2 separate regions of the Homo sapiens genome follow, and region 1 is linked to region 2. The links come from fine-mapping of genetic effects on plasma protein levels. A gene starts in region 2. The other region holds a variant in brackets. All regions are shown on one strand. Distances are between the middles of the regions. Region 1 holds the start of LOC107987282 (a long non-coding RNA gene). Region 2 holds the start of WFDC2 (WAP four-disulfide core domain 2).

Evidence for each region. A credible set is the group of variants that fine-mapping cannot tell apart. PIP is the posterior inclusion probability: the model's chance that the variant is causal. The UK Biobank Pharma Proteomics Project read protein levels with antibody pairs (Olink). The fine-mapping took linkage between variants from a reference panel, not from the people measured, so its PIPs are less certain.
Region 1: its variant is the best candidate, but not a certain one, in a credible set for the plasma level of the WFDC2 protein (UK Biobank, PIP 0.72).

Annotation. Positions count from the first base shown.
Region 1 is chr20:45,481,778-45,497,277 of GRCh38, forward strand. LOC107987282 (a long non-coding RNA gene) reads left to right here and starts at 5,835. Exons shown (of 4, transcript XR_001754641.3): 1 at 5,835-5,933. It also overlaps the pseudogene RPL5P2. The variant AGGT/A (reference allele first, on the strand shown) is at 4,216.
Region 2 is chr20:45,459,735-45,475,234 of GRCh38, forward strand. WFDC2 (WAP four-disulfide core domain 2) reads left to right here and starts at 10,019. Exons shown (of 4, transcript NM_006103.4): 1 at 10,019-10,126; 2 at 10,655-10,798. The coding sequence starts at 10,048. RefSeq lists silencers at 10,684-10,873, 10,894-10,943.

The sequences.
Region 1 (15,500 bases), 22 kb after region 2:
CTGATAAGCAGCAGCATGCACCAGGTGCCAGACACGGTGCTGGGAGGTTTGCTTATGAGATCCTCTGGGTCCTCAAAACAATCCCCAGAGCAGTTAACAACATACCCCTGTCATAGACCTGGACTCCATGAGGTTACTTGCCAGTGGCCACACAGAAAGATGGCAATCCAGGATCCTCTCTTGTTGATACTTTAAGTCAAAGTTTTATTTTATATAAGTAATATAGTCATATGCATCCAAACTCAAAAGATTAAAAAAAGATATACAATGAAAAGTGTCTTTCACCCTTTATCCCCTGTCTCCACCTTCCACCCCAGCCACCAAGTTGTTTTCTATAAAGACAAAAAATGTTCTCAGTTTCTTGGGTTTCTTTTCAGATATGTATCCCCAGCTCTCAATCCTTTCTCTCTCCCTTCTCTATTTCTTCCTCTTTTCCTTTCTATTCCCCCTCTATGCCTCACTCTATTCTCTTTCTCTCTCCTCTATTCCTTCCTCTCCATCCTCCCCCTCTCCATACTCCCTCTCTTAATGCCCCTCTCTCTATGTACTTTCCTCTCTCTCCATAGTGTCCCCTTCTACTTCTCTCCCCACTCCCTATCTCTATCATCTCTTTCCATCTGTTAGAGTAGGTAGTTAGACATGAGCAGGACAGGAGAGGGCTCCCCCCTCACACGCCCAGGAATGTCAGGTGACGATCAGGTGATGGTCAGGTAGTGGTTAAACTGTCTCTCTAAAATGATCACTGGGCCGGGTGCAGTGGCTCACGCCTGTAATCCCAGCACTTTGGGAGGCCGAGGCGGGTGGCTCACCTGAGATCAGGAGTTTGAGACCAGCCTGGCCAACATGGCCAAACCCCATTTCTACTAAAAATACAAAAATTAGCCAGGCATGGTGGCATGCACCTGTAATCCCAGCTACTTGGGAGGCTGAGGCAGGAGAACTGCTTGAACCCGGAAGGTGGAGGTGGAATGAGCTCAGGTCACACGACTGCACTCCAGCCTGGGCAACAGAGAGAGACTGCATCTTATTTTTATTTTTTAAAGTTACAAATAAAAGTTTTCTTGGCTCTGAAAAACAAAGATCAGCAATGTTTTAAGTAAAAAGTCATAGAAGGGTTATTTTAGTCTTCTATTAGTTCAGTCTATGCAGTTAACACCTGTTCTGCTTGATATTCATAAACATTTCAGCTCTCCATGAGAGTCCTGAAAGTTTTTTCCTCGATTCTAATGTCACAATCTCCAAAGGTATCAGAAACCTGCATTCAAGAGCACCTGTCAAAGTCCTATAGCTGATTATAAACCACCTTTTGAAGAGAATCAAAACAAGACAATAATTGTGGGTGACAAAAAGTCTTAGGACAGCCACTACTAAAGCCACATTTGACAATTTTGGTTACTTCTGTGGCATACAATTTTACACAACAATTATAATTATTAATTACATACACTAAGCCATATCAGAATTACAGGACTTTCCAGTAATTTTGGAACATATACTAATAACATATTTATACAAATACAGCCCAAAGAAAGCCAAACACCATTTCATATTTGACAATGCTTCCTGTATGATTTTTATACCAAATAAGCCAAATATGTCATTTTTGGACTTTAGGGGACCTAATAGCTATAAGATTAATTAGGTCAGAAAAAGACATAATTTATAATTTGGTTTTGGAAAGTTTGTTACTATCAAAGGTTTAAAACACTTGATATTATAGAAGAGAATCATAGGCCACCATAAGTCATCTAGCCAAAATAACTCAAAAATTTTAAAAAGGCAAAAAACTTTATTCATGGAAAATCTTGTTCAAGAGAAAGCCAAATTTCACCTTTGCATTAGTGTACTATTAATATCAAACCCAATTCTTAGTAGAACCTTAGACAAATCTCTTCAATTTTAATGTTTGACCCTAAGGTAAGATTCTTATAAATCTTATGACCCTTTACAATTTTTGTTAAAGAGCAGATCAGTGCTCCAAGGAAATCCTTTTGTGCTTTTATTCCAATGTTCAATTTACAGAAAAACTGAATAATGTCACTTTAGCTTTAGCCAATATGTTCACATATAAAATTTCTTTTACCAGATTAATCTTTCACAAACCTATCACAACTTGCTCAAACCTTCAGCTTTATGCTATCTTAGTTAAAACCTTTAACCCTCTAAACTAGTGTAGCCAAAAAACTCCCACATTTCCATGCCTTCTTATAATCTTTTACCAAAAACACATTTCACTTTCCTGACACACCTTGCATGTAAAACGTTTCTGTAGTAGTCTCCATTGCATGTTACACTGTTAACTCTTAGAAACTTTTGTTGTTGCTGAAAAACCTGATAAGTGAGTGATTTTTAATTTTGTAGCAGGTGTGGAGCCTAAGATACGAGACAAAAATGCAGATAAGTTATCCTTCCATCATAGTGAGGGGGCATCCCTAACTCCGCATGTCCACAGGCCTTACCTAGAATCTAATAGCTCAAAGAATAGCTCTTCTTTGACTTTTCAAAAGTCAAAGAAGCAGTTCATGATCTTAAAGCGTTTAGCAAACCTAATTATCTGACCTAATTTAGACCAAATGTCTTTATTTTACCAATAATTTTTTAAACTGTCCTTCCAAAGCTTACTAAAGTCACGTGAACTAAAAGGCATTAGTTTTTATTTTCCTGACAAAATATTTAAGCGCTTATTTTTAAGCCAATTAATCAGAGCTCCTTCATATATAAATGTCACACACACAACACATATAAATATACAGACAGCAGAAGATCCAGTAGTTGTTACGATTTTTCATTTGGCAGTTTTTAAGTTTCTTAATTGGATTACTGGCTTCAGGGTGGGGTCCTTTGAGGAACAGGGTTAGGAAAACATGCCGTTTCTAGGGCTTAATAAGCAGATACAGATGGAAAGCAAAACAGATCCCCCAAAATTCAGGGTCCTATTTTTATACCGGATCCTCAATTCCCAAAAAAGAAATACTACAGAACAAGACAATGAATGATCTTACTGTGAGTTTCATTGCAAGACAACCCAGAGTCAATCAGCCCATTCTGTGATCAGCCTATCCCCCACGGAAGCCTTATCTCAGTGGTGGGGTGGGGGATGGGGATGTTTCCATACCTTCCAGGTGGCTGAGAGCACGCCTCTCTGATCCAAACGTGCAGAGAGCCAAGTATCCCGCCATAACTGCCACTGGCCATGCCCAAAAGTATATTTGCTACCTAGTTATTACACACCAAAGCTCACTCATAATGTGAAGTAATTTCTGATACTCTAAAAAGTAAAAAATGTCAAATAACGCAATGCAAAACAGAACAGAGCCTTAGCTTTTGAGAGAGATCTATCTGCTTCCAATCCCTGGGTCTTAATGAGGAAAACAGATGTTTTCCCTAAAACGGGGTCTGTGGCACCTCCTCTGTTTTTCTCAAGGAGTCCAAGGCTATTAGAAATTATCTTAGGTCCTCTCACATGTGCATCAAGAGTGGCAAGAAGGCAAAACAGAGAAACAATTCAGTTGACTGTGAAAAAAAAAATACCTTTTTTTTCCCCTTGTCTTGTTTTCCCCTGGTAAAAAAAAATACTTTTTTCTTCATAAGATCCAAGAAGAGAAAAAAACATAAAGACCTTTTAAATATACGTATAGCTTGGATATCTGCTTTTAATTAAGCTAACTTTTAACAAAATCTCTTATTACCAGACTCTAGCCGGGACAAACAGCCAATATTTATGGCCTTTAAACTTTACCAAAGGTAATCTCCCAGGTGAAACCAATAAGCCTTAACTAAGGTTGTGACTTAACCACAGGTGTACGAAGTATTTTCAAACAGGTGGTAAGCAGTTTTTACAAGATTTAGAATCTACAAAGGCAGCTTAGAGAAGGGAAAATTCAAAAAGGAAAGCCAGATGTTGTTCAAGGAGGGGCAGAGAATCAACAAATGGCAAAGCTCACGTAGATATCAAACTAGAAAGGACTAATTCCCTGAGCTGGGAATTGAACCCTGAATGTGGGCTGCCATTGTGAAAAGACAAAACCTTAGCTACTAAGCTTCAGCATTGGGCAGTTTCCATTTCTTTTCTTAGAAGGACCCTAGAGGCAGCCAATTTTGAGCTTGCAAAGGCTTTTAACTGCTCAAGACAATTTTTAGGGCTATGACGTGAACCTCAAAATTCCTGTCCTCTGGATGCTGGAGACTAAGAAGGTATACCACCATATGGTTACA[AGGT/A]CAAGCTTCCAAGGGCATAAGACAAGGGGAAAACTTCAGTCAGTTTTTTGTTTGTTTCAGGGACCTGCCGCAAAGTTTGTAACTGACCAGTGTGCCGGACTGGCTTGAACAGCAAGCTTACCGGGTCCTAAGCCCATATTCTATCCTAAGGTACCTCTCTTTATGACAGAAAAATACAGAAAGACAAATTCATAGCACAAATTACACCAGATTTGCTACAGCTTAATACTAGCCACATGAAGGCTTTTGTTTCATTAATTGAAACTTTGCAGAGGAGGCAGTGATTTTTACCATTCCTACAGTCGGCGCGCACAGAGAGAGGCCAGAAGTCTGACTGGTAAGAAATTCTTACCCTTTTGCTGGCATGCCAGGTTTCTGGGTTCCCTTTCCCTGAGTGGCCCTAGCGAATCTACTTGCTGCATCATAGCCCTGGAGGCCAAGCTGCAACACAAAATTAAAAAAAAAAAAATCTCAATTTTGTAAGATGCTGCCCAGTGGGTTGCATGGGGTAACCAAATGAACATTTTCCATTCCAGCCAGAGCAAAATACGTGTGACAAAACATAGACATTAGCCGCTCTGCTTAGCACCCAATATCTAACTGGCAAGGCTCAAACTTGCCCCCGGTTGGGCCTTGTCATCTTTAATCCATTCAAAGTGGGGTGGAGTGACCTCCGACCCGGAATTTCAACATGTGGTCTCTGGGCAAGATGGAAGAGCAGGTAGTCTCAAGTAACAGAAACGATAGGAAAAGAAAAGGAGAGAAAGAGAGAGTAAGAGAGAGAAGCCTGGTCTGAGGCAGGGTGGGGAAGCGGGGAGCTCAGGGAGACCAGAGGAATACCCACCCATTGCAGCAACACTGAATCAAAAGTTCAGGCAGGTACTTGTCAGTCACAAAGGGATCTTTTCCAGCAGTCCCATCAGCTCTCAAGTTGCCCCCTCTGGGGAGAAAAAAGTTCCCCATGTTCCAAGATCCTGTACATGCCTAATCCAGTCACCTGTAGCCATCAGCAAACAGTGCAAGGCAGATTAATCCAGAGAATAGCAGTTAACATTTCATAGTGCCAAATCCATTTCTAACCAAGAGGGATGTTACTGAGGGGGACCTCTGACCCACTGTCTTTCTCTTTTCTTTCTAACCACTGTCTTTCTCTTTTCTTTCTTTTTTTCTCTTTCTCTCTTTCTTCTTTTTGAGATGGAGTTTTTTGCTGTGTTGCCCAGGCTGGAGTTGTGCTTCATCCTAAGGTACCCCTTTTTATGACAGAAAAATACAGAAAGAAAAATTTACAAAATACAGAAAGAGCCCCCTCTGCTGGAGAAGAAATCTCCACCCACTCCACCTCCAGCCCCGACTCCTCAGCCTCTCCCACCCGCTCCGCCGCCACAGCCAGCCCTGCCCTCACCACCCCCGCTGGTGGCCCCCACGTCCAGCTCACCACCGCCACCACCGCTGCCACCTCCACCAGCTATGCCTTCGCCTCCACTGCCACCCCCGCCAGCCGCTGCCCCACCGGCTGCCCCTCCAGGGGAGCCCGCCCCCCATCCCCCGAGGACGCTGAGCTGCCGGACACCTGGCCTCTGCACCTGGCCAAGAAGCAGGAGACGGCGGCCGTGTGTGGAGAGACGGACTAGAAGGCTGACGAGAGTGGCGGAGAGGGCATTTTCCGTGAGCAGGACGAGTTCGTCATCCGCGCAGAGGACATCCTTTCCCTCAAGGTGAGTCCCAGGCTTCTCCAAAAACTGGGCCTGATGGGTTACTTGAGTGTTTGTTGAGCGCCTGCTGGATGAGAGGCTTGTGTTGGGACCTGCGGATCCAGTCATGGCTGAGGGAGAATGGCTGGGCCCACTGGAATTCACAGTCCAATGGGGCCGTTAGAGGTGGCAGTGACCTGCGGGCCTCAGAGGTGTTATTTGCGTATGTGTTTATACACGCATTACCTGTATGTAAGGTAAATACTTTTTTTTTTTTTTGAGACAGAGTCTCGCTCTGTCGCCCAGGCTGGAGTGCAGTGGCGCAGTCTCGGCTCACTGCAACCTCCGCCTCCCGGGTTCACGTCATTCTCCTGCCTCAGCCTCCAGAGTAACTGGGACTACAGGTGCCCACCACCACGCCCGGCTAATTTTTTGTATTTTTAGTAGAGACGGGGTTTCACGGTGTTAGCCAGGATGGTCTTGATCTCCTGACGCACCGCCTTGGCCTCCCAATGTGCTGGGATTATAGGCGTGAGCCACCGCGCCGGCCAGGATTTTTGTTTGTTTGTTTGTTTGTTTGTTTGTGATGGAGTTTCACTCTGTCGCCCAGGCTGGAGTGCAGTGGTGCGATCTCGGCTCACTACAACCTCTGCCTCCCAGGTTCAAGCAATTCTCCTGCCTCAGCCTCCCGAGTAGCTGGGATTACAGGCACATACCACCACACCCGGCTAATTTTGTATTTTTAGTAGAGGTGGGGTTACCATGTTGGCCAGGCTGGTCTCGAACTCCTGACCTCAGGTGATCCACCCGCCTCGGCCTCCCAAAGTGCTGGGATTACAGGCATGAGCCACCGCGCCCAGCCACCCCCTATGGCTTAGAAGGGACTCTAATTTTTCTAAGTTAAGCCTTTAACCCAGGTTTGGTCAAGCGTCGTTGCTTTTTATTAACAGGGGCCTTTAAGCCTCTTTGTCTTAGGAGGGACTCTAACTCTCCTAAGTTGGGCTTCTAACCCAATCCCATCCTTTACCCAGGTAAAACGTACCCCACCACATATCCAGAGTTGGCCAATTGGTGCTGCAGTCTTTTTCTTTGGGTCAGAAGTCTCTTCAGTATAGTCGCTTCATGGTGGCCAGGAAGATGTTACCAGAAAGGAGTCCGGATCCAGACCCCAAGAGAGGGTTCTCAGATCTCACACAAGAAAGAAATCAAAGCAAGTCCGTAGAGTAAAGTGAGAAAGCAAGTTTATTAAGAAAGTAAAGGAAAGGGAAAAAGAGTGGCTACTCCATGGGCAGAGCAGCCCCAAGGGTTGCTGGTTCAAGATTTTTATGGTTATTTCTTGATTATATGCTAAAACGGGTGGATTATTCATGAGTTTTCATGGAGAGGGGAAGAGATTTCCCAGAACTGAGGATCCCTCCCCTTTTTAGTCTATATAGGATAACTTCTGAGTGTTGCCATGGTGTTTGTAAATTGTCATGGCACTGATAGGAGTGTCTTTTAGCATGCTAATGCATTATGATTAGCATAGAATAAGCATTGAGGATGACCAGAGGTCACTTTCATTGCCATCTTGGTTTCAGTGGGTTTCGGCTGGGTTCTTTACCACATCCTGATTTATTAGCAGGGTCTGTGACCTGTATCTTGTGCCAACCTCCTATCTCATCCTGTGACTAAGAATGCCTAACCCTCTGGGAATGTAGCCAAGCAGGTCTCACCCTTATTTTATCCAGCCCCTATTCAAGATGGAGTCACTCTGGTTGGAAGGCCTCTGACACAATGATTTCTTACTTTAATCCTGGGGTGTATGCTTATCCTTTGGGGTGAGGGAGAAGGAGAATAAGGGAGTAATGTCAGTGACTCTGGCCCCCCAGGAACAGCCTTCATGTCCTTCCCTTCTCTACCCACCGTGGAACATGAGAGATCTGGAAAGTTTCAGTGACATTGTCTGGAATATCTGGCCAGCCTGGCTTGGTGTCTATCAGGCTTTATCTTCCTCATCTTCTTGTGGGACCAGGGACCAGGGACCAGACAAGGCCCCAGGGCATCTCCATTCACTCCCAGGGGCACAAACTGATAGAGCCTCCTGGTGGGAGTGGGGATGCTTTGTGCATATGATAGCCCCTTGGCCAGAGATGGCAGTGTAGATTTTCCCAGCTCCCCACTTTCTGATTTCTATTTTTGTCCATGCTCGGGGCTCCCCAACCTTTTAGGCAGAAACAGAGGCATCCAGTGATGGGTTGGGAAGAGTTGCTGGGAACTCGGTGTGTGACTACCACTAGCTCCACTTTCTCCTGTCCTTCTACAGGTTTGCATTCTGAAAGAGTGGCCCAGGCAGGGTGATGTCTAACCCAGGGATGGCAAAGGTGTCCACATGCCATCATTTCTTCCACCAGCACCCATATCACATGATTGCTGCTCCTTTCCATTAGCCCATGTGTGGCCACAGAGCCCTCAGCACAGGGCTCCAGGCAGCTGCTACAGCTGCCCATTGATTGGGGTTGATAGATAGATTTGCTACCCCTGATTTAACTCAAGAAATAAAATGCTAATGGTGAAAAGTCAGACCTGGCAGTTGAGGTTTTACTGAGTAAGAAGACTGCACAGGGGACCCTGAGCAGGGGTCCAAAGGAGATGGGACCTCAGGCCCTCCACCAGAAGCTTAAGAGGGGGTAAAGCTTTTTCAAGGGGTCCCTAGCCCAGAGGCCTCCTGCAGAAGATGAGGTGGAAGTTGCCAGGGATCTCAGTAATGCACAGGAAGAAGCTACCAGGGAAGGAGGACTGAGAGGTGGGATGGGGCAGGTAAGAAAGCAGGGGTGGGTTAGACGAGGCAGAACCTCTGGCTGAGACCCTTCCTTTAATTTTCTTTTTTAAGCTGCTTGGTCAATAAGTTTATTGTTTTTATCTGAATAATCTTATAGAAAATGACTATTTGCCAGACGTGGTGGAACGTGCCTATATTCCTAAGTACTTGGAAGGCCAAGTGGGGGAGGATTGCTTGAGCCCAGGAGTTGGAGGCTACAGTGAGCTATGATTGTGCCACTGCACTCTGACTTGGGTGACAGAGCGAGACTCTGTCTCTGAAAAAAAAAAAGAAAAAGGAAAAAGAAAAGACAAGAAAATAGTTGTTTGGCTTAGCGCTCAGCAGCCTGCTCCTGAGCTCTTAGAAAACTTGCCTTCTGAGCTACTCAGTCTTTCTTCTGGACAGGGGACGTCTTGGGATGGTTCCACCTTTTCTTAACTTCTTCCCCAGGCTTCCTCTCGTGAACTGGATTCTCTTGTTCAGCATCATGAGCTTTCTTACATGTCTCTCCGTCATGACTGGAGTTATGTTGTTCTTTATGTATTGAGAAAATTGTTTCTTGTAAACATCTTCATCTTCTTACATTGGGTAATGCATATAATCTGCGATCTTCTGACCCAGGATGTGCTTCTGCATTGAACTCCCTGCTTTCTGAATTGGAACCAGGGAATTGTTTGGTAACTGTGAGGGATAGAAAACCTCAATCCACACCTCCCTTCAGGGCCCCCCTACCTTTATTTCCGTTGGTAGTTCTGGCAAGTAGCAAGTGAAGGCACCAAGTAACCATCAATGCTTCCCATGTGATACCCATCTCTGCTCACCTCCACTTGACCTTCATAGGTGTTGTCCATGCCAAGACTATTGAGGGGCCTTCGGGTCAGCACAGGCCAGTACAATGTGCTGCATCATAATCTGGCTGGCCAACCTTCATGCTACACTTTAGACATTCATGAACATATGCTGTGCAGACAATCATATTCCCTTCTGTGTGGGCAAAAACCATATGACAAATGATCTCTCTGTTAGTTGCATGAACTATCCTGAATTTTGGTGTGTTCTACTTATTTTCATCCTGGATTACCAAGTGTGTCTGAGCATAGTAATCAGTTTAACCCACTGGTCTTCTAAATGTCATCTGTATCTCTTAAAGTAGGCCTTACTCTTAACAATTTTAACACACTCCATCCTCCGGAACAGAGAGCTGTGTCCATGGCTTGACACAGACCTGCAGCGTGCAAGGGGGGCCAGGCAAGGCGGAAGCCCTACGATCATTCTTTGATCAACTTTTGCAGCCAAGTGAATGCTGTAGGTTGGGGACTCTGAAGATTTGTGATTGGAAAGGGGGAAGGAAAAAGGACAGGGTCCCAGACTGGTCTCTTCCCCCTCTTCCAGGCCTTGATGGGCCACACTTGATATAGGCAGACCACAGCAAAGCTTAGTTTTGGCCAGGAGAACAGCTCCCAGGGCCCAGGAATCCCAGTAAACAGGTGGATCGAGATGGGACAGCCAACCTCAAGGCCCCTCACAGAACCACTCAGCCCAGCTGCCCCTCCAGACGTCAGGGCAGGGCTTCTTCCCGCACTTATTTTCTCCCATTTCCGATGGCAAACTGCTTTGCAGATGCCTCTAAAGGCCATCCCCAGCCCAGGAAGCCATGTATGGTAATACCTACATGGAAACAGACATCTTCTCTGCAGGAAAGTGCAGGTTTGGGGTTGGAGCGATAGTAAGAAGTTACATGAGTGAGCTGGAGCTTAGAAAATAAAGTTCTAAAGACAGACCAGTCAGGGAGGGGAAGGTCCTGCCCCAGAAACAACATCAGCAGAGGCATTCACTCATTCAATATTTATAAAGCACTTACTATGTGTTCTATTCTAGGTGGTGGGGATTTGATAGAAGGAAAAGAGTGTGTGTGTGTGTGTGTGTGTGTGTGTGTGTGCGGTGGAGAGGATAGCCAATAAATAAATGAACTAACACATATATAACATGTTAGGTGGAGGAAAAGTTATGGAGAAATACACAGGTAAGAGGAATAGTGAGTCTGGGGGTGGGGTAGAGATGGGGGTGATTACTTTGCAAAGTAGTCAGGGAAGGTCTTAAAGTATTATTCAAGTAGTGAACTCAGTGAAGGAGGACATGAGCTGCGTGACAACCCATGAGAAGAGGAATTTAGAGAGAAGAGAGTTCCAGAACAAAGGACCTGAGGTCAGAGTGTTCTCAGGGTGTTGGGGATCATCCAGGAGGCTGGCATGGCTGGGGTGAATGAGTGGTCAGGAGCCTGAGGTGAGTTGAAGTCAGAGAGGTAGCATGGGCACAGAGAATAAGGGCCTTGTGGCTCATTGCAAGGATTTTGCCTTTTATTTGGAGCAAATTTGGGAGCCACTGGAGGAGTTTGAGCAGAAGAGTGACATATGACTTCAGTTGGAAAAGGATCCTTCTGGCTGCTGTGTTGTGAATACTACAGGGGAGATGCAGAACCAGGGAGGGCAGGTAGGTCACTGCAACAGGGCAGGCAAAAGCTGGCTTAAAAAAATGCTTCAGGCTGGGCATGGGGGCTCACACCTGTAATCCCAGCACTTTGGGAGGCCAAGGCTGGCAGATCACGAGGTCAGGAGCTCGAGACCAGCCTGGCCAACATGGTGAAACCCCGTCTCTACTAAAATACAAAAAAATTAGCTGGGTGTGGTGGTGCGTGCCTGTAATCCCAGCTACCTGGGAGGCTGAGGCAGGAGAATTGCTTGAACCCGGGAGGCAGAGGTTGCAGTGAGCCAAGATGGCGCCACTGCACTCCAGCCTGGGGGACAGAGCGAGACTCCGTCTCAAAAAACAAACAACAAAAAACTCTTCATCCAGTGGTATGAGGCCCCCCACACTGTCAGGTAGAAATCTTGGCTTCCTTAAACAAACCTTTATTGTTTCCCTTATTGGAAGTATTCCTTCCTTGGTTTCTAAAACACCGCAGAGCCCTGAGACACAACATTTAACATAATCATAGTAATGCTGAATTACAAGCCAACTCAAAATTCAGTGACTTAAGGCAACAATCATTCGCTCTCACTCCCATATCTGTGGGTCTGCTGGGGTTCAGCTGATCTAGGCTGGGCTCAGCTGGTTCTTCTTGAACCAGCAGGTTCCATAAAATGTATTCCCTGGGTCACCTGAGGTCAGGAGTTCCAGACCAGCCTGGCCAACATGGTGAAACCCTGTCTTTACTAAAAATATGAAAAAAATTAGCCAAGAATGGTGGCGGACGCCTGTAATCCCAGTTACTCAGGAGGCTGAGGGAGGAGAATCACTTGAACCCAGGAGGCGGAAATTGCAGTGAGTGGAGATCAAGCCATTGCACTCCAGCCTGGGTGACAAGAGTGAAACTCGGTCTCAGGCTGGGCGCAGTAGCTCACGCCTATAATCTCAGCACTTTGGGAGGCCGAGGCAGGTGGGTCACGAGGTCAGAAGTTCGAGACCAGCCTGGCCAAGATGGTGAAACCCCATCTGTACTAAAAACACAAAAATTAGCCGGGCGCGGTGGTGGGCACCTGTAATCCCAGCTACTCGGGAGGCTGAGGCAGGAGAATTACTTGAACCCAGGAGGTAGAGGTTGCAGTGAGCCGAGATCACGCCACTGCACTCTAGCCTGGGTGACAGAGCAAGACTCTGTCTCAAAAAAAAAAAAAAAAAAAAAAAAAAGCAAAACTTGGTCTCAAAACAAAACAAAAACACATTCTCGTAGGATTGGTAGAAGGATAAGCACAGATTCCAAGTCTGTGCTTTCATCATGTCTGTTAGCATCATTAGCCAAAATAAGTCACATACCAACCCCGAAGTTAAGGGGCAGAGAAATATACTCTGCCTCTAGTGGAAGAAACTGCAGACTCTTTGATTGTGGATATAGGGAGGGTGATGAATTGGAGCCAGTAACTCAATCTACCACAGTTATTATGTTTAATAACAAGATATGCTTTGGTTGCTCTGATCCATTTATTCTGGCTGTGGGAAAAAAAGCACCATATGCTGGTTGCTGATTGAGAGCATGTACAGTATCCTGCGAGATAGAACCTTACCCACTCGAAGTTTTATTTCCAAGTTGTTAATGTCACACCTGCAGGACATCCCACCATTCCACAAGTCTGGCTGCTTCTGGGTGATGGAGAACAGGATAAAACTGGTGAATCCCATGAATAACAGGCCCTTTCTTTCTTTATTTTACTGTAGCACTCTCCCTAGATGTCTGTATGGTTAATCTTCACTCACCTCATTCAAGACTTTGCTTAAGTGTAACCTTCTCAAAAAGGCCCACTATGACCATCCTCATTAAAACTGCAACCTCTGCATCCCCAGTTCCCCTTATTCTACTCACTTTTTCCCCATAGCACCTTGTACTACTATTAGTCTATATAATTAAATTATATATTATGCTTATTGTTTATTTTCTGGGCCCCACCCTGAATATAATATTTATTATCTTTGCCCCACTCAGAGTGTTTGTGATCAAGAAGGGGAAAGGAAAAGATTATTGTTTTGTCCGTTTTGTGTTTGGCATATAGTAGGCACTCAATAAATATATGTTAATTGAATGAATGAATGAGGAGTTCTTTTCTAGAAGCAATATTATATGGGATACAGTCACTGTGATTAAGAAATTCCACAAATCCATGGGTACCAGTACTGGCACAGGCATGGAAGGCAAGGAAATAAAATTCAAATTCAGAATATCTATTCCAGTGAGGGCCAATCACCCCTGCCTCCATGCTTTTGAAGGGGTCTCATGTACCTGTCACCAGATAGCTGGTTCATTTTCTCTGGTTAACGGCACCATATCAGGGCTTAGATTGGCCATCACGCTAGCAGGCTCACTGCTGGAGTACACTGCTGTATACCATAAGTGTCAATAGGCCAATCAGCCTTGCTAAGTGGGAAGTCCATGTCATTGGCCCCAGGCTTAGTCCCTACCACTGTCACATGGTGCTTTGTTCATGAGCCCCCTGAGCAAGCACTAGGGTGGCCAGGGAGACAGGCTGACTGACATCTATGGGGGTGTCATCCTCTCTAAGTGATTACAAGAGCTTCTCTTGTAGCTTTTGTGAAGTGCCTGCGGGACATTGAGGGAGGTCTTGGCCCATCTCCTGGGCTCAGTTCCTCTTTGGCTTTGAAGCCCAGTAAATAGCTAATTCTATATGTTGTCATACTGGGTACTGGCCATTATTACATTGTCACAATGGGACTGTGCAAGTGTGCTGTCTCAGTTTCACATAGCTTCTGCAGGAAGATGGTACTAATTGTGTAGTAAGAAACTGTGTTTATAACCTGGATATTAGATCAAGATGGTGAAGATTGCTTCACATTTTTACAACATATCAGGGTGATATGTTGCAAATGTAAGAAACTTGGTAAACCCCATGTGGGATTTCCTCTATCTAGTAGGCTTGCACCAACCCAAAATATTCCTTGTGAGGAAACTGGAAGGTTACAGAAGCAACACTCATTGAAAATCCCCCCAATCTTATGTCCTCTGTAATGCTTTTCTGAAAATGCATCATCTGATCATATTGCAGTAAATGCAACTGCTATATGATTTAAACGTTCATTTCTCTAAGCCTCAAACCCGGTCCAATTCCATTTATGTAGTGTCCAACCTAGGGCTTGGTTTAAGTGAGGAGAGGTCAAGAGTAAGACAAGATCTCTTCCGGATTTTGAGGTGTCCTAACACCCATTATTTGCAAATGAGCTTAAGTCCTTTCAGGGACCACCCCAGCAGAACATGGTGTCCAGAAGAGTCAGAGGAGCTAATTATTGGATTCAATCACAGACCAGTGCAGGGATCTTGGAGTCCAAAATACACTCTTCTTGGGCAGGGAAGGGGAGAGGCTGCCCGCTACTGTAACTGGCAAAAGGGTTTGGCTGCTTGCCACTTGTAAAAAGAAGCCAGTATAATGAGAATGAAGTGTGATAAAAAGAGAGCAAGATTTTATTATCCATGCTAGATAGAGGAGAAGTGGATGTAATTCTTTCCAAAGATTTCCACTTTATGATTTGTAGAGGAAACACGGGGTCTTTTAAAGACAGGGTTCAGAATGCAGAAGAGGCAGGGGGCTAGGAGGTGTCAGGTGGGGTGAGCCACTCCAATGGGTTGTCTTGAATTATTGTTCCATCTGGTGAAGGGGCCAGCACCATTGTGGCTGAAAGTGTCTGGTCCGTATCAGGATCTGGTCCCTGAAGCTTCTAAGGCAACATATTGACCAGATAAGTGAGTATGATGTGTGTTTAACAAGCATCTAGGTAAATACATGTGCGAAAGGTGTGGGAGCGCAGAATGGGAAAAGAAAGGGAGTGGAGGTTTACAGCATATTCCAAAGCTGTGTTTCGAGATGAAAGGAAACACATATGCAGTTTGTCTCAAAGTTATATCTTGAGACTGGGGAGAAAGGAGGCAAGAAAACAAAGTTTTAAAATGTGGTTTGAAGCCAAGCTCCTCAGTTACGCTATTAAATGCAATCCATGCTATTAAGACAGAAATTGTGGTAGAGCTAGGATCTAGTAATGCTACCCTTTCCTGCCTACTGCCAGTCTTGGAAATTCTTGCCCCCAGCCTGGCCCTCACCCTTCACCCTAATGCTACCATCATCCATCCGCCCCACTCTACCAGTCCCAGTGCTTCTGCAGTACCAAGTCCCACAGCCCCATACCAGCTGTAATGGCTCGAGCTTTCCCTTCTTCACTTTTGCTCCTGCTGGTGCTGTGACTGCTGCATGGTTCCACTTGTCCTGTCCATTGATGCAGCCTTTGGAAACGCC
Region 2 (15,500 bases):
TTCTCTGCCCATAGTTTCCTTAGGCAGAGGGAATAAATCCCCCTGCTGGCTGTCTAGAACACTTTTTTAAAAACCAATCTCTTATCAGAACTGCCTGTTTCCTTGTCCGTCTCCCCTGCTGGGCCACTGGGCCTCAAGCGATCCTCCCGCCTCAGCCTCCCAAACTGCTGGGATTACAGTCACAAGCCAGTGCACCCAGTCCCAGATTTTGTTTTTCTAATACAGTTCCGCTAGTTCTATTAATAGCTAAAATGTAAACACTGAAAACTCTTTTGAAACTAAAGAGGGGAAAAACAAGTAAAAGAGGTTTTTAAAAATTAAACTACCATGGAAACTGGTTTACCCACAATTTTGGTTCACAACCTTCATTGGATTACCTATTGGGGAAAACAAAGTTTAGCCATGTAAACAGGTTCCAACTTGCCAAAAATATAATTTGGGTTCAACCATCTTTTGTAAACTGGTAAGTTTGTGTTGCTGTCTCATGGCTAGAGTTCCAAGGTAAAAAAGATAGGACCTTTGTGCATGTACTCATGTGTTTAACTGAAGGTTCTTACCTAGGTGAACAGGCTATTAAAATAGTTAACAAGGAAATAACTTGAAATGATGACTAGATTTGTCTAATATCTCAGTTCTCATAGTCATCTAGATAAACTCCTAAAAATAAATAGGGTAAATATAAATGGGATAAATGCTTGAAGGTAAACTTTTTGTTTAGTTTAAAAATCTGACAATTATTTAAAATGCTCATTGGACATCTGGGTGATGTCCAATTAAGAAAGGGTTATGATATGGGGAAACATTTCTAAGAATTGTGGAGTCGTTCTCATTTATAATGCTGCTATCTGAGTACAAAGCCCTAGTTGATAACTCTTTCCTTCAACTTTAATGTCAGCTCCTGTAATTATTTTTTCCCTCCAGTTCTAGCCACTGTTGCAGCCTGATGCTAAAACATTTTATTTCAAAGGTCTAGAAAATCAATGATTTTCTCCAGGATAACTTGATTCTGTACTCAGACTCAGTTCAGCATTGCTTGCATCCCAGTTTTTTGCTAAAATTTAAGGTTACTAAGAATAAAAATTCTAGCTAATATATAATCTTTTTTTTTTCAGAGCAAGTGTGGAAATTTATTTTTAAAGGCTTTAGAACAGTAAAGAAAGGAAAATACACTTGGAAGAGCCCTGAGTGGGCACCAAGGTCAAGTGCCTATAATTTTATATATAAAAAATGTGCCAAAGATGATGTGCCTTTTTTTCCCCCAAGTTGGAGTCTTGCTCTGTCATGCAGTCTGGAGTGGAGAGGCACGATCTCAGCTCACTGCAACTTCTGACTCCCAGGTTCAAGAGATTCTCCTGTCTCGGCCTCCTGAGTAGCTGGGATTACAGGTGCCCACCACCACACCTGGCTAATTTTTATATTTTTAGTAAAGATGAGGTTTCACTATGTTGGCCTCTGTTTGGCAGTGTATGGGTATGCAGTGGGTACTCACAAATGCTGGTTAGACACCTGCAGGCTTGTACTAAGGACCAGGTTTGGCAAACATCAGTGTTTGAGGGAGTCTGATTTGAGAGTGTGGAAGTTGAGAATCATGGCAGGAGATGGACTCTGCTATTCACTACTATGAATCAACCTTGGTCCCTGTTCTTGGGGGAGACCACAGGCCAATGGAAAAAACAGAGATGTAACTAATTGCTGGTAGCGTTATGAGTAACTCTGTTGGGTAAGCCATTTGGTAGGAGGCAGAGAACTGGAGGCAAGACCTATGTACTTGCAGAGAACATTGTTAGCAGGACTGGCCTAAGGGCACCTTTCTCCCTTCATTCATCAGAAAGGATCAAAGCTGCTGCTAGGAGAGGAAAAGGGAGCTGGGCCAGCCCTGGCTGTAACCCTTTACAAGAAATAAAGCTGTGAAAGAACCTGTGGAATCATTTTCAGCTCAGAACACAGAGCAATATTTTTACTCTCTCTTACGGGTGGAATTGTGTCCCCTCAAATTCATATGTTGAAATCCAGTACCTTGGAATGTGGCCTTATTTGGAGATAGAGTCTACATAAGCAATCAAGTTGAAATGAGGTTATAGGGTGATCCCTAATCAAATATAACTGACACACTCAGAGAGACTATTTTATTTTATGTATTTTAAAAATTTTTTAATTTAAATCGTTTTTGGGGAGCAGGGGTTTTTTTGTTACATGGATAAGTTCTTTGGTGGTAATTTCTGAGATTTTTTGGCGCACCCATCACCCGAGCAGTGTACACTGTACCCAATGTGTAGTCTTTTGTCCCTCATCCCCTTGCCCCTTCCCCCCAAGTCCCTGAGTCCATTATATCATTCTTATGCTTTTGTATTATCTTAGCTTAGCTCCCACTTATAAGTAAGAACATACGATATTTGGTTTTCCATCCCTAAATTACTTCACTTAGAATAATAGTCTCTAACTCCATCCGGGTTGCTGCAAATGCCATTATTTTGTTCCTTTTTCTGGCTGAGTCGTATTCCATTGTGTATATATGCCACATATTTTCTTTATCCACTCATTGGTCAATGGGCATTTAGGCTGGTTCCATACTTTCGCAATTGCTAATTGTGCTGCCTTAAATGTGTGTGTCCAAGTGTCTTAGAAAAAGAGAAAATTTAAAGAGACACACATATAGGTAGAAAATTGTGGGAAGATGAAGGCAGAAACCGGGGTGATGCTCCTACAAGCTAAGGAACAGCAAGGATTGCCAGAAAAACTTCCAGAAGCTAAGGGAGGGGCATGGAACAGATTCTTCATCACAACCCTCAGAATGCACCCACCCTGCTGACACTCTAATCTTGGACTTCTGACCCCCCAAACTGTGAGAGAATAAATTTCTGTTGTTTAAGCCACCCAGTTGGTGGTATTTTGTTACAGAAATCCTAGGATTGCTTTGCAAAATATTCTCTCTTAATCTATGTTGAGCTAATGAGGCAAGAAATATCTTCATATTGTAAATTTAAAAACTGAGGCTCAGAGAGGTGAAATAACTGCCCAGGGTCTCAGAACTAGGAAGTGATAGAATTGGGACTCAAATGATCTCTTCTTGACTCCAAATCTCAGGCTCTTACCAGTTCTTATGGGATGGGTAGTAGGGGCAATTTGACAAATAATGAAACTACTTGCTTGTTTCTTCTTCAATTCTGTTACAGATTGATTTCTGTGGGTTAACCTCAGTAATTTACAGCCTGTTCTAATTCTGTATAGTCCCCCCACGGGTCCAACAGGGTTATAAAGAACCTCACCAACAATCTTCGCCTGCTCCAGTTACCTATTGCTGCATGACAGCAAACCATCCTAAAGCTGGTGTAAAATAGAATCATTTCATTAGACTCATGGATTCTATGGGTCAGAATTTTAAACAGGACACAAACATGAGAATGGTTCATTTCTGTTCCATGATGCCTCAGGCCTCAGCCGGGAAGACTCAAACAGCTGGGGGTGACGCGATGACTGGGAGCTGGAATCAGCTGGTGCCTTCTTCATTCACATGGCTAGCACCTGGGCTGGCATGACTGAAAGCCTGGGCTCAGCTGGGATTGCTAACTGTAGCGCCTACATGTGGCCTCTCTATGTGCCTTGGGCTTCCTTACAACAAGGCAGTCTCAGGATAGTCAGGCTTCTTCCATGGCAGCTCAGGGCTCCAAGAGCTAGTGTTCCAGTTAAAAGGGTAGAAATTGCACCATCATTTATGATCTAGCCTTGGAAACCATATAGCATTACATCTACTAGACTCTCTTGGTTGAAGCAATCACAGACCAACTCAGATTCAAGGAATGAGATACAAACCCCACTTCTCTATAGGAAGGTGATATGGTTTAGCTTTGTGTCTCTATCCAAATCTCATCTTGAATTGTAATCCCCAGGTGTTAAGGGAGGAACATGTTGGGAAGTGATTTAATCATGGGGGTGGTTTCCCCCATGCTGTTCTCATGATAGCGAGTGAGTTCTCACGAGATCTGATGTTTTTATAAGTATTTGGAAGTTCTTCCTTCGTTCACTCTTCTCTTTCCTGCTGCCTTGTGAAGAAGGTGTCTGATTCCCCTTCTGTCGTGATTGTAAGTTTCCATGATTGTAAGTTTCTGCTATGATTATAAGTTTCCTCCCCAGCCATGAAGAACCATGAGTCAATTAAACCTATGTCTCCATAAATTATGCAGTCTCAGGTATTTATAGCAGTGTGAGAAGTGACGAATATAGAGGGGTATAAAACAACTGTTGACATGTTTAAAAACTGCTACAACACTCTTGGCCTCAGGGTAGGAAAATCTCATGGGTCTCATGCTTCCCTTTGGGATGAATATGGCTTTCATGGCAGTTGTGGGTACCCATCCTTTCCATCCTAGGAAGGACCAGAAAAATTGGGTTGTCATCCTGCTAGTAGACGAATTAGTAACCATGGAAATGAGTCCAAGCTCATACTACTCACTGCATGACATTCAATAAGTTGAGAGACAAGGTATTGGGGTACTGAAGGCAACTTTATTTCAGAAAGCCAACAAACTGAGAAGATGGTGAACTAATGTCCTAAAGAAACATCCTAAGTTAATAGAATTGTAGGCTCTTTTTATGTTGGGAAGGGGAAGAGAAAGGGGTTTGAGATCAAGAGGTGATCAAGGATCACAGACATCTGGGTGGCAGTGAGGGTCCAAGGGGGTGTGGTGAAACTTCTTTGTCCTTGGTCAGGTCACAATGCTCCTATAAATCATCTTTAACACAATATTGTTACTTGTGTATACACCCTCCTTATCTCCTCTGGGGTTAATTTGGGGAAGGGACTATTAGCAACCTTGCTTTAAACTATAAACTAAATTTCTCCCATAGTTAGCTCAGCCTATGTGTAGAAATGAGCAAAAGCAGTTAACCTAAAATATGTCACCACAGGAGTGGGGTAGGAGTTTGGGGCAAAATAGAGCTAGTTTTTGCTAAGCCTCCTTTTTTACTGCTACAACCTCACAGCTTCTCCCTGTGACTTTATCTTAGGGTGGAAAGTCTAATAAATCAGACCTGTCTCCCGATGTGATGGACTGACCAGTACCCAGTAATTCATGATCTTTTGCCTAATAAAAGGAACCACTACTATCAATGCTTTGCTAAGACAACTGCAAAAATCCTCTTACTACTAGTCCAGTTTCCATAGCTGTCCTCTTACAATGCATTCTTCAGAGCTGCCAGAGGGATTTTCAAAAATTATAAATCAGATGATTTTGTCCCCCAATCTCCCAGCTTTTACTAGCCCATGGCTTCCCATTGCACATAAAAGATATGTTGCTTTTCATAGCCTTCAGGGTCCTTCATGATCTTGTTCTTGCCTAGCTCTTTGATTTCATCTCCCTTGATTTTAACTCTGCTCCAGCTATACTGGTTCTCTTACTCTTCTTGGCATTCATCAGGCTTCTTCCTGCCTTAGGATCTTTGGACTTGCTTTAACCTTTTTTGGTAATGCTCAGCCCCAGATGATGTTGTAGATAGATGTTACACATCATTCAAGTCTCAGCTGTTGATAAAGAAGACTCTTGGGGTGAGCTTGATCAAGGAATGTTTGATGAGACAATGAGCCCAGGGAAGGTTTGTGCAGCATGAAGTAAGTAATGTAGCTGGAAATAAAAGTTGGTATCAGTCAAAAAGGCAGGCTAAGGAGTTCAGCCTTTATCCTGAAGGCAGTGAAGATCCAGTAGAATTTACAGTCAAGGAATTAACTCGACAAGTGCACTGTTCTAGGAAGATTATTTGGTTTAGGGCTGGACCTGAGCCACTTCAAATAGACAAGCTCTGCTTTTCATGGGTTTTTGTGCAGAGACCATGTGTATTTTTTTTTTTTAATGAGGATTTGGTTTGAACATTATTGCATGTATGCCACAAGGATCTTAACTGTGAGTTAGAAGAGAATGAGAGCTGAGAGAAGTCCACTGGATTTGGAAATGAGGAACTTGGTGGTTACACTGGTATAGGGAGTAAGATCTCTTTGGTTACTAGCAACAGAAACCAACTCTGGCTGTTGTAAACAGAGAAGAAATTTATAAAAATGGGATGTAGTCGGCATCCATTCTCCTTTCCTAATAATATCTCTAAGTTAGCCAGAGTTGAATTTTACTGCTTGCACCCAATAGCACTAATTGATTCAGTTTAGCTCTCAGAACTGAAGGAAAGGCTAAAAGAACACAGCTTGGAAAGAATGGTAAAGTCAGAACTGAGTTCTTCCCAGGACACCTCTGAGTTAGCTCCATAAATTTTCAGGTCTTTTATCATTCATTGCTCAAGATTACAGTTCTAGGAACAGTATTTGATTGGCCACTCTGCCTGGGGGTAGGGCAGACACATTAATTGACAGTCTCCCTGGCCCCACCTGTCTTGGTCTGGAGGAAGTTATTTCCTCCAAAGCAAACTCAGGGTGATTTATCAGAAAAAGGACAAATGAATGCTAGGTGACAAAACAAAATAGTCAATATATCCAAAGAGAGAGGTTTCCATGGAATGAAAGGAAGTTTGACTGAGTCCAAAAGTCTAAAAGGAGAGGCCCATTGCATGGTTAAAGGCACCTTTTTTGTTCCTGGAAACTTCTTAAATCTTCACCGTTAACTTGTTTACAGTCATTTTAGAGTGGGCATGTCTACAGCTAATTGACATCATCTACCACTATAAACTTTTCCTTCTTTCCTTTCTGCTTCTTTTCTTCCTCCTCTTCCCTGATATATATTTTTTTACACTCATGAAGTCAAGTCCAAAACTTTGGATGCATCATCTACGTTAACCTCAGATAGATCTGTGTGAATGTGTATAATATTGAAATAACTGGGACAACACAAGTAATTTGGCAAGAGTCTTCCCTCTGATTTACTGGCTGTGTTTCCTCCAGCAAGTCACTTTGCTTAGCTGAATCTCAGTTTCTTAACGTGTAAAATGGGAGTAATAATACTTAATCCATAAGATTGCTAAATACATATAAGCTATCTTTCACCAAACACTTACTATGTGCCCACTCCAGAGGTCACAAATTTAAATGTCCTCCTGGGGTCAGGTGAGCACTGTGAATGGAACTAGTTGCAGAGAGGGAGGATGGTGGTGGTGGGGATTATGGGAAACTGGAGGGAATGCTTCCCTCATAGAAAAAGAGTAGCTGTACTTAGGTTCTGGTTTTCAAAGTATGGTCCCTAGCCCTGCAGCATTGGCATCACCTGGAAACCTGTTAGAAATGCAAATTCTCAGGTTCCAGACCTACTAATCAAAACTCTGGGGATGGGGATCCTGCAATCTGTATTTTAATAAGCCTTCCAAGTGATTCTGATGCATGCTTAGGCTGGGCACTGTGGCTCACACCTGTAATCCCAGCACTTTGAGAGGCCAAGGCGGGCAGATCACCTGAGGTCAGGAGTTCGAGACCAACCTGGCCAACATGGTGAAACCCCGTCCCTACTAAAAATACAAAAATTAGCCGGGTGTAGTGGCGCCTGTAATCGCAGCTACTTGGGAGACTGAGGCAGGAGAATCGCTTGAACCCAGGAGGCAGGGGAAGGGAAGGGAAGGGGAGGAGATGGGAGGGGAGGGGAGGGGAGGGAAGCCTGGGGGACAGAGCAAAACTCAGTCTCAAAAAAACAAAAACAACAAAAAAAATGATTCTGACGCATGCTCAATTTTGAGACCTGCTGCTCTAGCTGATGGTTGTTATATCTAAGATTGCAGGACTGTGTTGCCAGATCTTTTACTTTTTCCAAGAGAAGCTAGAGGTTTATTTTTATATGAAATTCGCTACTTTTAAATCTTGGCAACTAATTTAAAAATTTAAAACATACTGTGTAGTTAATAATGTATGTGCTCTAGCCAGATTTGCAACCTCTGATTTATGCTTTTTCCTTTAACCCTTATAATAATCTTATAAAACCCTTATAATAATCATCCAAGACTGTTAGGATGATACACAGTTTATGCAGGAAGAAGATGCAGGCCCAAAACATGAAGTGTTTCTCTAAGTCACATAGCCAGAAAGTGGCCATGGATGCATTGTCCCTGATTGGGCATGGATGCATTTGGTTCTAAAGCCTCTGCCCTTTTAAATGATGTAAAGAGAATATCTATAACTATACCTAGCACGGAACTTGGCACCACAAAAGCTAAACATCTGATGCCATTGACTGATGAAAATTCCTTCCCCATCCTTCTGCCTGGCCCTGCCACTCTCCCTCAGTCTGTATTCCTGTAAGAGAGAGCCAATCAATAGGGTGCTCATAAGGGCCTGGGAGGAGCAAGGCTGGGCAGTTTCCTGGCCCAGGGAGCTGAATAGGGCCCGGAAGAAAGCTGTTGGCAGCAGTGCCTGGGGCTGAATGTACAGTAGCCAGCTGGGTCCACGGGCTAAAAACTGGCTGCTCACCCCAGTGTTCTCTTTGTGCCCTAGACTGGGTTTCACTAGCCTGTTATGGGCTGTGTTCCCACCTGGCTCCTGCCCTCATTGTTGACTGAGCTCAGAGTAAATAGCCCTGGCCCCTCCCAATAACGTCCCCAGTCCCCAAGTTGAGCATGAGAAGCTGGGGGAGGTGTTCTCAGCATCCATTTTGGGGACAGTGGCCAGATGTACTCACATCACCAAACCCTACTCACCTGTCACTATCATCCCAGTGTTCACTGCCCCAGGGCCCCTCTAGCCTCCAGCAGCAAAGACCTCCTGGGGCTTCTAGAACCTCAGATCATTGGAGCAGGAAGCACTTCTTGTCTAACTCCCTGGGTAACTCTGTTTTGGCACTTAACCCCCTGGATTCTAAAGCTTCATTTATACTTATTGGTCTCCTTCGTCACAGGAGACACTTATCTGTGGAGCACTCATGGCCATGTATCCAGTACCTATCATGGGTCAGGCCTGGAGTCCCTGTGTCAATCAGTGTGGATCTACTCTCAATGCTCCCAGTGAGTACATGGTTGTTCCGTGGCAGGAACGTTGCATTTGTGTTCTCACTGAAGTCCCATATAGGTGTCATTTTCACTGATGATGTGGCAGCTCAGATCCAGGAAAGGATTCATTCCAGGGCCCTCAGGTGGGAAGTGGTGGAGGTGGGAGTCAGACCCCAGACCCTGTCACCCCTTCAAGACCAGTGCTGGAGGGCCCCTTTTGACGACTTTCTCTTCACCAAGCGTCTTGCCCTGCATATGTCACACAGTAGGCACCCAGTGAATATTTACGACGGAATGGAAAAAACAAGGGCCTGGAGGGAGAGACCTGGGTTCAAAACCTTATTTGTACAGCTTTGCAGGGGACCTTGTGGTGGAGGTGCGGTCCTAAATCCCTAAACACTCAGTTCCTTTGTCATATACAGCTGATAACAGTAACTCCCCGGTCAGAGGACCGGCGACAATTCCTTGAGACAAGGAGCACAGAGCCTGGCACAGTCAGCCCTGATCAGGGGCCGGTAGGACAAAGAGAGGGAGACAGAAACACACACCCAAACGGCTTGAGACTGCTAGGTGCTTCACCTTCCTGGGCCTGTTTCTGATGAGGAGGGTTTGTTTATTAATAATAAGTGCTATTTCTGTAGCCCCTACTATGTGCTCTGTATCACTACCCTAGCCCTCCATCAAGAGGGATCTGCCCTCTCATCTGGCTGACCCCAAATCGAACCCTTTAACCCGCATGCTCTACTGCCTCCCTGCGGGCCCTGCCTTATCCTCCTCAACCGCCCACTGGGGACACTCTGGAGAAACCTCGGAGTCTTGGAATAGAAACCCAGGAGCCCTGAGCCTTGGCCCTCAGGCCCCAGGAGGGAGGTCAGGAGGGAGGCGTGGACAAGGGTCCGGCCGTAGCTGGTCCCGTCCTGGAAGCTGCTTAAGTTCCTGGTTCCCACCGGGGCCAAGAGTGATACCTGATCCTGGGGGATTGTGAAATGACCTCATGTGGCAGCCCGCCCGCGGTGCCCGCAAAGCCCTCCACCCTCCCCTTCCCCGCTCGGCTCCACCCCTACCCCACGCCCCCTCCCGCGCGCGCGGTTAAATCCCCGCACCTGAGCATCGGCTCACACCTGCACCCCGCCCGGGCATAGCACCATGCCTGCTTGTCGCCTAGGCCCGCTAGCCGCCGCCCTCCTCCTCAGCCTGCTGCTGTTCGGCTTCACCCTAGTCTCAGGTGAGTGGGGCGGGGAGAGGCCCGGCGCCTAGAGGGGCCGAGCCACGAGCGCCAGGATGGAGCCAGGCGGAGGCGTAGCCTCTGGAGGCTGGGGAAGTGGGAATTCCGGGGGCGGAAGTGGCGGGGACCCTTGGAGCCTAGGGTGTGGGGTCCAATGTGCTGGAGGTGGAGAGACCACTGATGGCTGCAATTTGGGAGGATTCTGTGCTGAACGCGGACACTCCGTGGCTGCAGTGGGCTGGGGGTGGGGGCTGCTCTGCCTCGACCTCGGAAGCTCCGAGACGCTCAGCTGTGCGGCGTCCCCTAGGGCTGAGATCTGAGGGCCCCGACGCCAAGGGTTAGGGAGCTCTCGTACTCCCAGGGGTCAGGGACTCCTGGTCTGGAAGAAGGAGTCTCTGGGGGCTGTAAGGGGACTCCTAGGGCCAGAGACTGAGAATTCCTTGGGGTTAAGGTTTGGAGCAGGAGGTGGGCATCCTCTGGGGCTGGCGCTACGCCCCACCCTCGACTGTCCCGGGCCTCCCCTCCCAGGCACAGGAGCAGAGAAGACTGGCGTGTGCCCCGAGCTCCAGGCTGACCAGAACTGCACGCAAGAGTGCGTCTCGGACAGCGAATGCGCCGACAACCTCAAGTGCTGCAGCGCGGGCTGTGCCACCTTCTGCTCTCTGCCCAATGGTAACCCCACGGCGGCCGAGCGGGAACGGGGCGGGGCCGCGCTGGGCTGGGAGGAGGTGGGAGGGCCCGGGTTCCGGGAACAGGGGCGCCCCCGGACCCGGGGACCCCCGGGAAAGTCAAGGCGGTTGAAACCAGATCCGTCAGTCCTCTCCCTCGCACGGCCCAGGGGTAGACAAAGGCGTCGTTGAAACGCAGCCAAGGGGGGGTCCCCACCCCTAGCTGGGATTCGAGTCTCTGGTGCATGACGGGCTTCCGGGCACGCACAGCCGGGACATTGTTCCCCGCGGCCTGGGGACCCGGGGCCGCAGTTTCCTTCTCGAACCGGCCGAAGCCTGCCCTGCGGGAAAGCCCGGAGCCTGGGGCGCTCACCTCTCCTCTTGGAGTCCCTCCCTGGGGGCCTCCCCCAGCCCTGGGGAAAGACTGGGAGAGCCTGGCCTGGCAAGATTTTCCCCAATTCCTCTGTCCAGGCGGAAAGGAACTTTACAGATTTAGGAAAATGCCCCGCTCATCTTAAAGATGTGTAAGGGAGCATCGGTGAGAAAAAAATGTTCTTGCCCAAGGTCACACCGCCATCCCATGGCTGCTGGAGTCATAGTGAGGGTTCAGCTTTTGCCTTTCAGGCCAACTGGCTGAGTGATTCGAAGAAAGTGAGGAATCCTCCCTGGACACTGTATCGCCCTTCGTCGTCTTTCAGTCAATCTCTTCCACTCTAAGGATTGAGTGAGCGCGAGCTGGGGACTCTCTCAAAGGTGCTTGCTGGAGCTGCAGTCTCCACCAGGCTATCAGAACAGGGGGTGGCTTAAACAGCATGGAATCTCAGCTTTCCGTTCTCCAGAGGAAAATGCTGAGGATTAGAGGCAGGGATAGGACCTGGAGAGAACCAAGGTACTGTAATGATGTTCTTTATCCAGAATACAGCCCCTGTGACTTTTCCTCTCTGTTATTTCCTTGAAGATGCCAGCACAGGCTGGGAAGGTTTGTAATACGGTGACCCAAGACACCGATCAGCAGGGAGGTGGTAAGTGGAGGGGGACTGGCAGCCCACCAAGGGCAGCTTCAAGGTCATGAGTCCCCTCCTCTGGGCCAGGGAGAGGAGGACCAGAAGGAGAGAGGAAGATTTGGAGAGAAAGCAGGCAGCAGCCAGATGAGAGAGGTGGAGGAGCAAAGGAGGGAGTCTTTGCTGTTTGATGGATGAAGAATTTGTTCCCTTATCTCAGATGGACAGACTGAGGCAGGAAGAGGGACAAGGTCAGATGGCCTCCTGAGCCAGGGAGGCAGCCTGGAGGTTTGAATCCTAGTTCTGCCATTTTCTAGTTATGTGATCCTGAGCATGTTGTTTACCTCTCTGAGCCTCTGCTCTAAGATGGGAATAATTCCAAACTCTATAGGATTGGCATGAGGACTAAATGAAATAATGCATCTAAAGTGTCTATTAGTGAGAAGATACTCCATACACAGTGGCTTGTTTTGATCATAAATGGTTCCCTATTTATTTCCAGGGCAGCCCAATATTACAGGTTCCTACTCCTTTCAAGAGAATGAATTTCTTTGTATTAGGAAGTCAAGACTGTTGGCAACTTAACAACATTTTTTTTTGTATTTATGCTTTAAGTTCTGGGGTACACGTGCAGAACGTGCAGGTTTGTTACATAGGTATACATGTGCCATGGTGGTTTGCTTCACCCATCAACCCGTCATCTACATTAGGTGTTTCTCCTAATGCTATGCCTCCCCTAATTCCCAACCCCCCGACAGGCCCTGGTGTGTGATGTTCCCCTCCCTGTGTCCATGTGTTCTCATTGTTCAACTCCTACTTATGAGTGAGAACATGCGGTATTTGGTTTTCTGTTCTTGTGTTAGTTTGCTGAGAATGATGGTTTCCAGCTTCATCCATGTCTCTGCAAAGGACATGAACTCATCATTTGTTATGGCTGCATAGTATTCCATGGTGTAGACGTGCCACATTTCCTTTATCCAGTCCATCACTGATGGGCATTTGGGTTGGTTCCAAGTCTTTGCTATTGTGAACAGTGCTGCAATAAACCTATGTGTGCATGTGTCTTGGGCATTTGCGTTGGTTCCAAGTCTTTGCTATTGTGAACAGTGCTGCAATAAACCTATGTGTGCATGTGTCTTTATTGTAGAATGATTTATAATCCTTTGGGTATATACCCAGTAATGGGATTGCTGGGTCAAATGGTATTTCTTGTTCTAGATCCTTGAGGAATGGCCACACTCTCTTCCACAATGGTTGAACTAATTTACACTCCCACGAACAGTGTAAAAGCATTCCTATTTCTCCACATCCTCTCCAGCATCTGTTGTTTCCTGACTTTTTAAGGATCTCCATTCTAACTGGTGTGAGATGTTATCTCATTGTGGTTTTGATTTGCATTTCTCTAATGACCAGTGATGATGAGCATTTTTCATGTTTGTTGGCTGCATAAATGTCTTCTTTTGAGAAGCATCTGTTCATATCCTTCGCCCACGTTCTAATGGGGTTTTTTTCTCGTAAATTTGTTTGAGTTCTTGTAGATTCTGTATATTAGCCCTTTGTCAGATGGATAGAGTGCAAAAATTTTCTCCCATTCTGTAGGCTGCCTGTTCACTCTGATGATAGTTTCTTTTGCTGTGCAGAAGCTCTGTAGTTTAATTGGATCCCATTTGTCAATTTTGGCTTTTGTTGCCATTGCTTTTGGTGTTTTAGTCATGAAGTCTTTGCCCATGCCTATGTCCTGAATGGTATTGCCTAGGTTTTCTTCTAGGGTTTTTATGGTTTTAGGTCTTACATTTAAGTCTTTAATCCATCTTGAGTTAATTTTTGCATAAGGTGTAAGGAAAGGGGTCCAGTTTCAGTTTTCTGCATATGGCTAGCCAGTTTTCCCAACACCATTTATTAAATAGGGAATCCTTTCCCCATTGCTTGTTTTTGCCATGTTTGTCAAAGATCAGGTGGCTGTAGATGTGTAGTGTTATTTCTGAGGCCTCTGTTCTGTTCTGTTGGTCTATATATCTGTTTTGGTACCAGTACCATGCTGTTTTGGTTACTGTAGCCTTGTAGTATAGCTTGAAGTCAGTTAGCGTGATGCTTCCAGCTTTGTTCTTTTTGCTTAGGATTGTCTTGGCTATGTGGGCTTTTATTTGGTTCCATATGAAATTTAAAGTCGTTTTTTCTAATTCTGTGAAGAAAGTCAGTGATAGCTTGATGGGGATAGCATTGAATCTATAAATTACTTTGGGCAGTATAGCCATTTTCACGATATTGATTCTTCTTATCCATGAGCATGGATTGTTTTTCCATTTGTTTGTATCCTCTCTTATTTCGTTGAGCAGTGGTTTGTAGTTCTCCTTGAAGAGGTCCTTCACCTCCCTTGTAAGTTGTATTCCTAGGTATTTTATTCTCTTTGTAGCAATTGTGAATGGGAATTCACTCATGATTTGGCTCTCTGTCTATTATTGGTGTATAGGAATACTTGTGATTTTTGTACATTGATTTGTATCCTGAGACTTTACTGCAGTTTCTTATCAGCTTAAGGAGATTTTGGGCTGAGATAATGGGGTTTTCTAAATATACAATCATTTCATCTGCAAACAGGGACAATTTGACTTCCTCTTTTCCTAATTGAATACCCTTTATTTCTTTCTCTTGACTGATTGCCCTGGCCAGAATTTCTAATGCTATGTTGAATAGGGGTGGTGAGAGAGAGCATGCTTGTCTTGTGCCGGTTTTCAAAGGGAATGCTTCCAGCTTTTGCCCATTCAGTATGATATTGGCTGTGGGTTTGTCATAAATAGCTCTTGTTACTTTGAGATACCTTCCATCAATACCTAGTTTATTGAGTGTTTTAGCATGAAGGGTGTTGAATTTTATCAAAGGCCTTTTCTGCATCTATTGAGATAATCATGTGGTTTTTGTCATTGATTTTGCTTATGTGATGGATTACGTTTATTGATTTGTGTATGTTGAACCAGCCTTGCATCCCAGGGACAAAGCCAACTTGATCATGGTGGATAAGCTTTTTGATGTGCTGCTGGATTTGGTTTGCCAGCATTTTATTAAGGATTTTCGCACTGATGTTCATCAGGGATATTAACCTGAAATTTTTTTGTTATTGTGTCTCTGCCAGGTTTTAGTATCAGGATGATGCTGGCCTCATAAAATGAATTAGGGAGGAGGCTCTCTTTTTCTATTGTTTGGAATAGTTTCAGAAGGAATGGTACCAGCAACTCCTCTTTGTACCTCTGGTGGAATTCGGCTGTGAATCTGTCTGGTCCCAGACTTTTTTTGGTTGGTAGGCTATTAATTACTGCCTCAATTTTGGAACTTGTTATTGGTCGATTCAGGGATTCGACTTCTTCCTGGTTTAGACTTGGGAGGGTGTATGTGTCCAGGAATTTATCCATTTCTTCTAGGTTTTCTAGTTTATTTGCGTAGAGGTGTTTATAGTATTCTCTGATGGTAGATTGTATTTCTGTGGGATCAGTGGTGATATCCCCTTTGTCATTTTTTATTGTGTCTATTTGATTCTTCTCTCTTTTCTTTATTAGTATGGCTAGCAGTCAGACTATTTTGTTGATGTTTTTCAAAAACCCAGCTTGTGAATTCATTGATTTTTTTTGAAGGGTTTTTCATGTCTCTATCTCCTTTAGTTCTCTCTGATCTTAGTTATTTCTTGTCTTCTGCTAGCTTTTGAATTTGTTT